2 linked regions of the Homo sapiens genome follow. The protein of the gene in region 2 purifies or fractionates together with the protein of the main gene of each other region. This does not show direct contact. Each region holds a gene or a part of one and is shown on either strand. Other genes may lie near its edges. The genes, in order: SAAL1 and ABCC5.

Evidence for each region.
Region 1: the proteins of ABCC5 (region 2) and SAAL1 purify together in Homo sapiens (co-immunoprecipitation; one large-scale study listed by IntAct). This does not show direct contact.

Annotation. Positions count from the first base shown.
Region 1 is NC_000011.10:18,081,982-18,085,797, forward strand, and holds part of SAAL1 (protein SAAL1), read right to left. Parts: intron 1,751-3,816; coding exon 1,554-1,750; intron 1-1,553. UniProt on the Homo sapiens protein: Plays a role in promoting the proliferation of synovial fibroblasts in response to pro-inflammatory stimuli.
Region 2 is NC_000003.12:184,014,905-184,019,314, forward strand, and holds the start of ABCC5 (ATP-binding cassette sub-family C member 5), read right to left. Parts: upstream 2,981-4,410; 5' UTR 2,926-2,980; exon of another isoform or gene 2,146-2,925; intron 2,061-2,145; exon of another isoform or gene 655-2,060; intron 1-654. UniProt on the Homo sapiens protein: ATP-dependent transporter of the ATP-binding cassette (ABC) family that actively extrudes physiological compounds, and xenobiotics from cells.

The sequences.
Region 1 (3,816 bases), on a different chromosome or scaffold from region 2:
TCTAAACTGATCGTATCACTTGGTGCTTAAAAGTAAAAAATCTTTAGTAGTTCCTCAGCTTTTTCAAGATGAAGTCTAAATCCCCTAAATATGACATAAGAATTTGCATGACATAGCACTCGTGTATTCTCAGCCCACCTTTCTTTGATGTTCCCACCACTTAAAAGTTAAGAAATATCGATGTCCCTTGCTCCAAAAAACAGAAACAACAGCAAAGAATGGGAAAAAAATACATGCGATAAATATGGAAAAGATACATTATTACCCAAGAAATTCATACAAATAATCAAAATGGATAAATTATTAAAAGGTAGGAAACAAATTAACATACGACATCCAAATATTTCAATCTCATTAATTTAAAAATGCAAATCAAAGTAAGACACAATTTATTACCTGAACTTTGACATAAAAATTATAATACCCAATAATAAGCGTCAAGTAAAACCAACATTTTCACATATAAATAGCATTTTGACAAAATATGGCCATCATGACTTAGCCATCTTCACATTTATAATGTTGAATCCAGTAATTTAAATTATATAAAACCTGCTAAGGTAATAACCCCAAATCTGGAAAATACAAATATGGAAAAGGGAAGCAAGACAACTAATAAAAAAAAAATCACCAGAATAAGAGAAACTTTTTGTTTCATTTTGTTTTTTGAGATAGGGTCTCACTCTGTCGCTCAGGTTGGAGTGTAGTGGCACAGTCTGGGCTCACTGCAGCCTCGACCTCCTGGGCTCAAGCAATCCTTCCATCTTTGCCTCCCAAGTAGCTAGGATCACAGGCGTGTGCCACCATGCCCAGCTAATTTTTGTATTTTTTGTAGAGATGAGGTTTTGCCATGTTGCCCAAACTGGTCTCAAACTCCTGGGCTCAAGTGATCCACCTGCCTCAGCCTCCCAAGTGCTGGGATTATAGGCGCCTGGCCAAGAGAAACTTCTTAAGGAATACTCTTTAAAAAATTAAGTGGGTATGAATAAATATATTCTTCACAGCTATATTTATAACATTTTATATTCATAATACAATATATTCATAACATATTCATAATACATTTCTTTCCAAATATATGGATAGAAAAAACATGGTCAAAAGAAGAATATTAATAACCATTGAACATATTCAGGGAGAATGTTCCTTAAAAGAAGTTTGCAGTAAATTTTGAAAACTGATTATTTGGTAAATTAGGTTTAAACTGGCTCTCAGTAAAAAAGTCTTTCATCTAGAATCAAGAAAAATGTTTATAATACAGTGTTAAGGGAAAACAGTAGTCTATAAAAATTGCATATGCTGGGTTAAAGTATATGAAAAATGCATTTATAAAAACACATGCATGCAAACATAGGCATATGTCTGTCACACGTAAATATACCAAACCACATCAGCTAGTTGTTTTTAAGATTATAAACTCATGGTGATATTAAGATTTTACTTTATTTTCCCAAATTATATATTACTTTCATATTTAAAAAAAAATAAAGTTTGAAGCGTTAAGCAACCCACACTTTCTTTTGCTTATGACATCATCAATACTTCTTTCCTACCTTTGTTAATGCCTGAAAAATATTAGAAAGAAATTCACATAAAATATCCTTTAAGATTTTCAAGTGGAAATCATCTTGGGTTAAATCAGTCCTTTTAGTTTCCTCTGTGTTAGACTCTGCCGAGTTCTCTGGTTTTTTCTGACACTGTTCCATATTTTGTAAGACCCGAATGAGGCTGTCAATTAGAGGAAGATCTACTGTATAAACAAATCAAGAAGCATGGAATTGGCCAGTTAAGTTTGGTTTTTCATTCATATGTATTGAATTAGTGCTAGACATTATTATTTTGGGTATTACAGATACACTGGTAACATCAGCAAGATGTCAGCCCATAAGAGGCTTACATTTTTATACTTTCAAATAAGTAAATAAAACAGACTATTTCAGGTTTTGGTTAAGTTCTATGAAGGAAATAAAAGAGGAATATAATATAGCAGCCTAGCAGGGCTAGCTCTCTGACAAGGTAACATTGAGTTGAGAACTAAAGCAATGAAGCATCAGCAATTAAAATACCCTAGGAGGTCAGGGGTGGTAGCTCACGCTTGTAATCTGAGCAGTTTGAGAGGCCAAGATGGGCGGGTAGCTTGAGCCCAGGAGTTCGAGACCAGCCTGAGCAATATGGTGAAACCGTGTCTTTACAAAAAGTACAAAAAAATTAGCTCACAGGATTTTTCTACCACTACCACTGTTACCATCTTGGTCCAAGTTATAACATTTCTTGCTATGAGTCAATTATGAAGAATCTCTAAAAGCCTCCTAACTCATGTCCCTTTTGTACCCATGACTCCCCATATTTCTCATCAAAACAGCAGCCTATTAAAGCCAGCTCATGCGTAGGCAACTTCTGCTTAAAACCCACCATGGTTCCCCACCTCATTCAGAGGAAAAGGCAACATCAGGCCCTCCATACTCTACCTCTCTGGCTCCATGTGCTACTTTGCTAAATCCACCCCAGCCATATGGGATCTCACTGTTCCTCCTCAAAGACACCAGGCATACTTCTGGTTGAAGGCTTTTACACTTTCCATTCCCTCTGTCTGGAATGTTCTTCTCCCCAAGTATGCACATGACTCCCTCCATTCTGTCCCTAAGGACTGTACTCAATGCCACCTTCTCAATGAGGTAACGTATCTACAAATGAAGATCTTAAAAATATTCAACATTCCTTTTTTATTAAAAACTCTTAATAAAATAGAAACAGATTAATATTTCCTTAAATGGTAAGACATATATCTGTTTTTGGAGGGGGGGTGCGGAGTATTGCTCTGCTGCCCAGGCTGGAGTACAATGGCGTGATTTCAGCTCACTGCAGCCTCTGCCTCCCAGGTTCGAGCAACTCTCCTGCCTCAGCCTTCTGAGTAACTGAGATTACAGGCATGCGTCACCAAGCCTGGCTAATTTTTGTATTTTTAGCAGAGACAGGGTTTCACCATGTTAGCCAGACTGACTTTGAACTCCTGACCTCAGGTAATCTGCCCGCCTCAGCCTCCCAAAGTGCTGGGATTATAGGTGTGAGCCACAGCACCTGGCTGTAAAACATATATCTTATACCCAATAATGCTTAACAATGGAACTCTAGGATTATTCCTACTAAAATCAGGAAGAAGGTAAGGATGTTTTCTACCATCACTATTATTTTACACCAGAGACTCTAGGCAACCCAGAAAGACAAGAAGAATAAACCAGAGATAGACAAGTGATAAAATATATCTAACTTAAGCCAAAGCACTATCAGATAAAGCCCAAAGATTATTACTGGAACGACTACTAAAAATATTAAGAATTTGGTAAGGTTACAGGATACAAAGTTAATATACCAAAATCAATAGCCTTCATATATTCCAACAATAATAATCAGTGGAAGAAAATATGTCACAGACAATAGTAAACCCAAAAGATACAATTATCTAGGAATGAAACTAATAAGAAATATCCAAGATCCATATGAAGAAACCATTACTGAGGGACACAAAAAAGACCTGAACAAATAAAAGGGCATAACATATCCTATCAAGTTAACACGATGTCAACAAAAATGTCAGAAATTTTTTGTTTTTGGAACTCAAAGTTAGTGATAAAAATAGTTAAAAACATTCTGAAAACTTAGAATGAAGAGGAATTTGCCTTATTAGGTATTAAAACATAAAACCTTAATATTTAAAAACACTATGGCTACTAATATATGAATACAGCAATGGAACTGAACAGAATATATAGGGGAATTTTAAAAATAATGATGAAATTTCAAATCAGTGTGGGTAAG
Region 2 (4,410 bases):
CCAATGATATATTCCATCTCTGCCTTTTTATAATTAACTAATGGGTTAGCTGGTGTTATTTTAAAGCTCCATGAAGTTATCCAGTTAAAACAATGTTATAACTTAACTTCAAACACAAATTCCCTGGGTACTGAAAATGTTCTAAAACTAGATAGTGGTAATGGTTGCACAATGCAGTGAATACATTGAAAAAAAACACACTGAATTTATACTTTAAAAGAGTGAATTTCATGTCATATAAATCCTATGGCAACAAAGCTGTTAGTAAAAAACAATAACAAAAACAAATTCTCCACCCTGTATTACTAAGTCTTACCTAGTTTTTACCTGAAACTCTATTCTAAACCACTGCTTGCCTGGCTAAGTCTAATCAATATGCTGTATCAACTCAGGTCACTTAAAAACAAAAAACACATACATACTTCTCCAAAATGTTTCCCCCCTCTAAGAAGGGTCACAGCCTCCCAGAGACAAGCTGAGAAAACACCTTTCATACTAGCCTCCAACGGAAATTAAAGACGTGTAGCCGTGTCGCCTTCTGGATTCCATAAATCCCTGGCTATCGCTGTGACTTAAAACTACTACTTCTGCAGCACAAAATTCTAACCATTATAATGCAATTTTTAAAGTGTCAGATAAAAAGAGAACACTTACTAATCCTCTGAATAAAAAGGACTAAATCTCCTATGCAAAGACAGGTTTCCAGTCCAAAGAAAGCTTGATTTCTTGCCTTTCAGAATTCTGGTTCAAGTACCCTAAGTTGATATAGCTGTTACTTATCTTTAAAAAAAAAAAAAAAGTCACCTTGTCCAATGACAAACTACACCATAAAGAACAGCGGCTCACCAAGCCAGAGTGCAGCAATCACGTCATTGAGACCTCATTAAGGCTAAACTATAAACAGACCTGGCATCTGCCAGTGTCCCCAGTGTTGAGCTGTAGCTGTAGATCAGAGTAACCTTCTTACGGGAATCACGAAATTCTAACCTTCCCCTTCAAGGGTTCCCTAGCTTAGCTGATTATCTGGAAGAGGAAAAGATTAGTACTACCTTTTTAAAAGGTGGGGGTTGGGGCGGTGAGCAGTTTGAAACAGAGGAGGTCACTGGAACTCATCCACAATATGAAATGCCACATCAAGAAGAACACGAACATAATCTTAATTATCTAAGCACCCATGATAACCAAAGATTCTTTCAACCACTTTTATTTCAAAGGATGAAGTAGAATCAGTGGAGCACAGGAGCAGAGAGAGGCAGGGACAAAACGACTTCCCTGTTATGACACAAATAATGACTGTTTTGTGCCTACAGTGACTGCTGTGGTAGACACTGCTAAACTATCCTAAGGGACTAAGTTATTCTATGTATGAAGGGTGTGGGGAACAGTGTTCCATTATCTCTAACACACTCATCTCTACTTTCCTGGAAAAAGAGGCACAATCAGGAGAGCAGGCAGGCCCAAAGTAGGCACAAAGTTACTGTCTGTGGCCTTGAACATAAGGACACCATCGTCTGTGTATCTGGAACATAAAAGAGGGCACCCCACGTGGAGGCCGGCGAAGAGCTGGGAATCCTGACAGGTTTGGAAAGAAACAAAGCCCCAGTCTGAAGCAAGCAAGCAAGCAAGGATGGATCCCCAGGCCAGCCATTTTACTGATACTATTTATATTTCCCTATCTTCTCGTGTCCTCCTTTAAAGTTGTTGGAATATCTTTTTTAAATGCTCACTTGCCTCAGCTATCAAGAGAGGAAGAAAGAGAAGGGATTTTTGTTTGTAAAAAACAAACCTGTTGTCCAGACATGTACAAGGGTAGAAGCAGAATAATCAACGTGGGAGAACCCCAAAGAAGTGCCCAATAGGGTTGAGGCCACTTAGTCAGCTGCCCTTTTTTACCAAGATTCTCTTTCCACTGATAAAAGTGTAGACACTCTCCCTGCACAATGATACTGATTCAACTGCATGGCAGGAGGAGAGTTGCACGGGATTACCAGACTGGTGTGTGCAAGCTGCAGTCATCCCAACACTCATGAGTAGGTTTCCATCACCTCCAGGCCCTCAAGCTGCACGAGGAAGACACCACGCTAAAGGGATACGTATTTACCACACCCACTGTAATCCACTTGTTGCGTCTCCAAGCAGCCTCACCTTTCATACACGCTGCGGACCACAGTAAAACCTAGCCATCTCCTCCTCCAAGACCTCCTGAAACTTTCCCCGTCGTTCCTGTGCCCACCTGCCTCCAGCCTCTCCGTCTGTGCAGAAACCAAATGGCCCCTGTGTGATAAACACAAAGCCACCCGCGGCTCTGTGTGGCAGAAGCGAAAAGAGCACTGGATGACCGTGGAGAGATCTGGGCTGCGTTCCCGGCACAGCCACGGCTTTGCTGCGCGTGCTTATGTCACGTACCTCCATTTACCCGCTTGCAAAAACGAAGGGGATGACTTACTTCGAAGGTCGCTGGCGGCTCCGCTGCGGGTTGAGCAGGGTGCCCCGAGCCACCCGCTGCACAGCCTCCCAGGTGGGCGTTTCTCTCAGACCCGCTTCGCCTGGGATGCCCGGGCCCTAGGGCGTTCCCACAGCCCGCTCCGGCCTGCCCAGGCGAGCGCGACCCACACCCACGGCCCGCGGGCGCAGCGCCCCCTGGCGGCCGCGGCCAGGGACGTAGCCCGCGTCCCTGCCCGCTCATCCCGATCCTACCTGCCTGTCTTCCAGCACACGACCCCGTCACCAGACCCCGGGCTCACAGGCCTAGGAGGCGGCGGCAGGAGACCAGGGGGAGGCCATACGCCGTTCCCCAAGTCTCCAGTGTCCCCCGAACTGCTCGCAGCCCTGGCCACATCCCGCCACGCCCCGAGGAAATGCAAAGGGGTGATCCCCGTGACAACCGAGCTGGAGGGCAGGGGTGCGGCAGCAGCCATCACCTACCTGCGCCCCTGCTCCAGGACAACCGCGCCAGCCGCTCAACCACGCTCCCGAGCATGAGCCCTGCAGCAAAACAAGCCTTTATAGCGGCATCGGCCGCCACACCGCGCAAGCGCGCTGCACAAAGCATTCCCAAGGCTGAAGGGAACTGTAGTCCTCCTTCCGAGTGCCCAGGGCTGCGGACGCGGCGAAGGACTACATTTCCCAGAAGCGCCGGTGACATCCCGGGGGCGGTGCGGGCTGCCCCTCTTCCCACCGAGCTCCCGGCTCTGTTCCATCCTTCCCCGTGCCTCTGCGAGACTGTCTGGAATCTTCTCAGGGGTCGTGTTCCCTGGGGGAGGCAGCCGGGAGGCTTAACCGTGGCCCTGTGTTCGCACACAGTGCTGTTCGTAGGCAGAGCAGTCCCACCCTGCGTGGCCGTGTAGCTGCCAGAAAAGATCGTGAAGGTCATCGTAGCCCGCGTCTAACCCGTTGAGAGTCGTCAGGCCGGCCAGCCCCAGTTCTTATCTGTTGTGGCAGATACGATTGCTTGCTCATGGTTCGACCCTGCAGTCTGCGCAGATACCGCCTTTCTCACTTTAACACCAACTGCCCATCAATGTCTCGCTGCCTGGTCTCTAGATAATAAAATGCCAGGATCACAGTCTTAGAAGTGGCAAGAGCCTTAGAAATGTTATGCTAACTCATCTTCTTCTTTTTATAAATGAAACTGAAGCTCCCAGAAAGATTGATCCCTTTATTTCTCTGTTTCATCGGTACCTTCAGCATCATTAAATAAAAGCCACTGTTGAGTTCTTCCCTACCTTGTATCCGATGCTTTACATACCATTCTTGTTTCCTTTAATCTCCATTACAGCCCTATGAGTAGGTATTATGAGTTTTTTTTTTTTTTTAAGGAGTCTGGCTCTGTTGCCCAGGCTGGAGTGCAATGGCGCGATCTCGGCTCACTGCAGCGTCCGCCTTCCGGGTTCAAGCAGTTCTCCTTGCCTCAGCCTCCCGAGTAGCTGGGATTACAGGCGTCCGCCACCACGCCCGGCTAATTTTCGTATTTTTTAAGTAGAGACAGGGTTTCGCCATATTGGCCAGGCTGGTCTCGAACTCCCGACCTCAGGTAATCCGCCCGCCTCGGCTTCCCAAAGTGCTGGGATTACAGGCGCGAGCCACCTCACCCCGCCGTATTTTTTTTTAATTCAAAGATTAAAAAAGAAGAAGAAGAAGAGGAAGAGGAAGAAGGAGAAGGTAAAGTGACTTGTCCATCTTTATAACAGCTAGCTAGTTAGCTAGTGTGAAGACACTACTGTATCGTAAAGCAGCATATTCTTGCGCACGGATTGATAGACCAATGCAATAGAATAAAGAGCCCCCAAACAGACTGGTGCATCCATGTAACTTGATCTGTGACAGAAAACCTTACGAATCCGTGGGGAAAGCAAGAAGAGTCAGTAAATAGTACTGGAACAATTGGTTATACATATGAAAAAACAATCA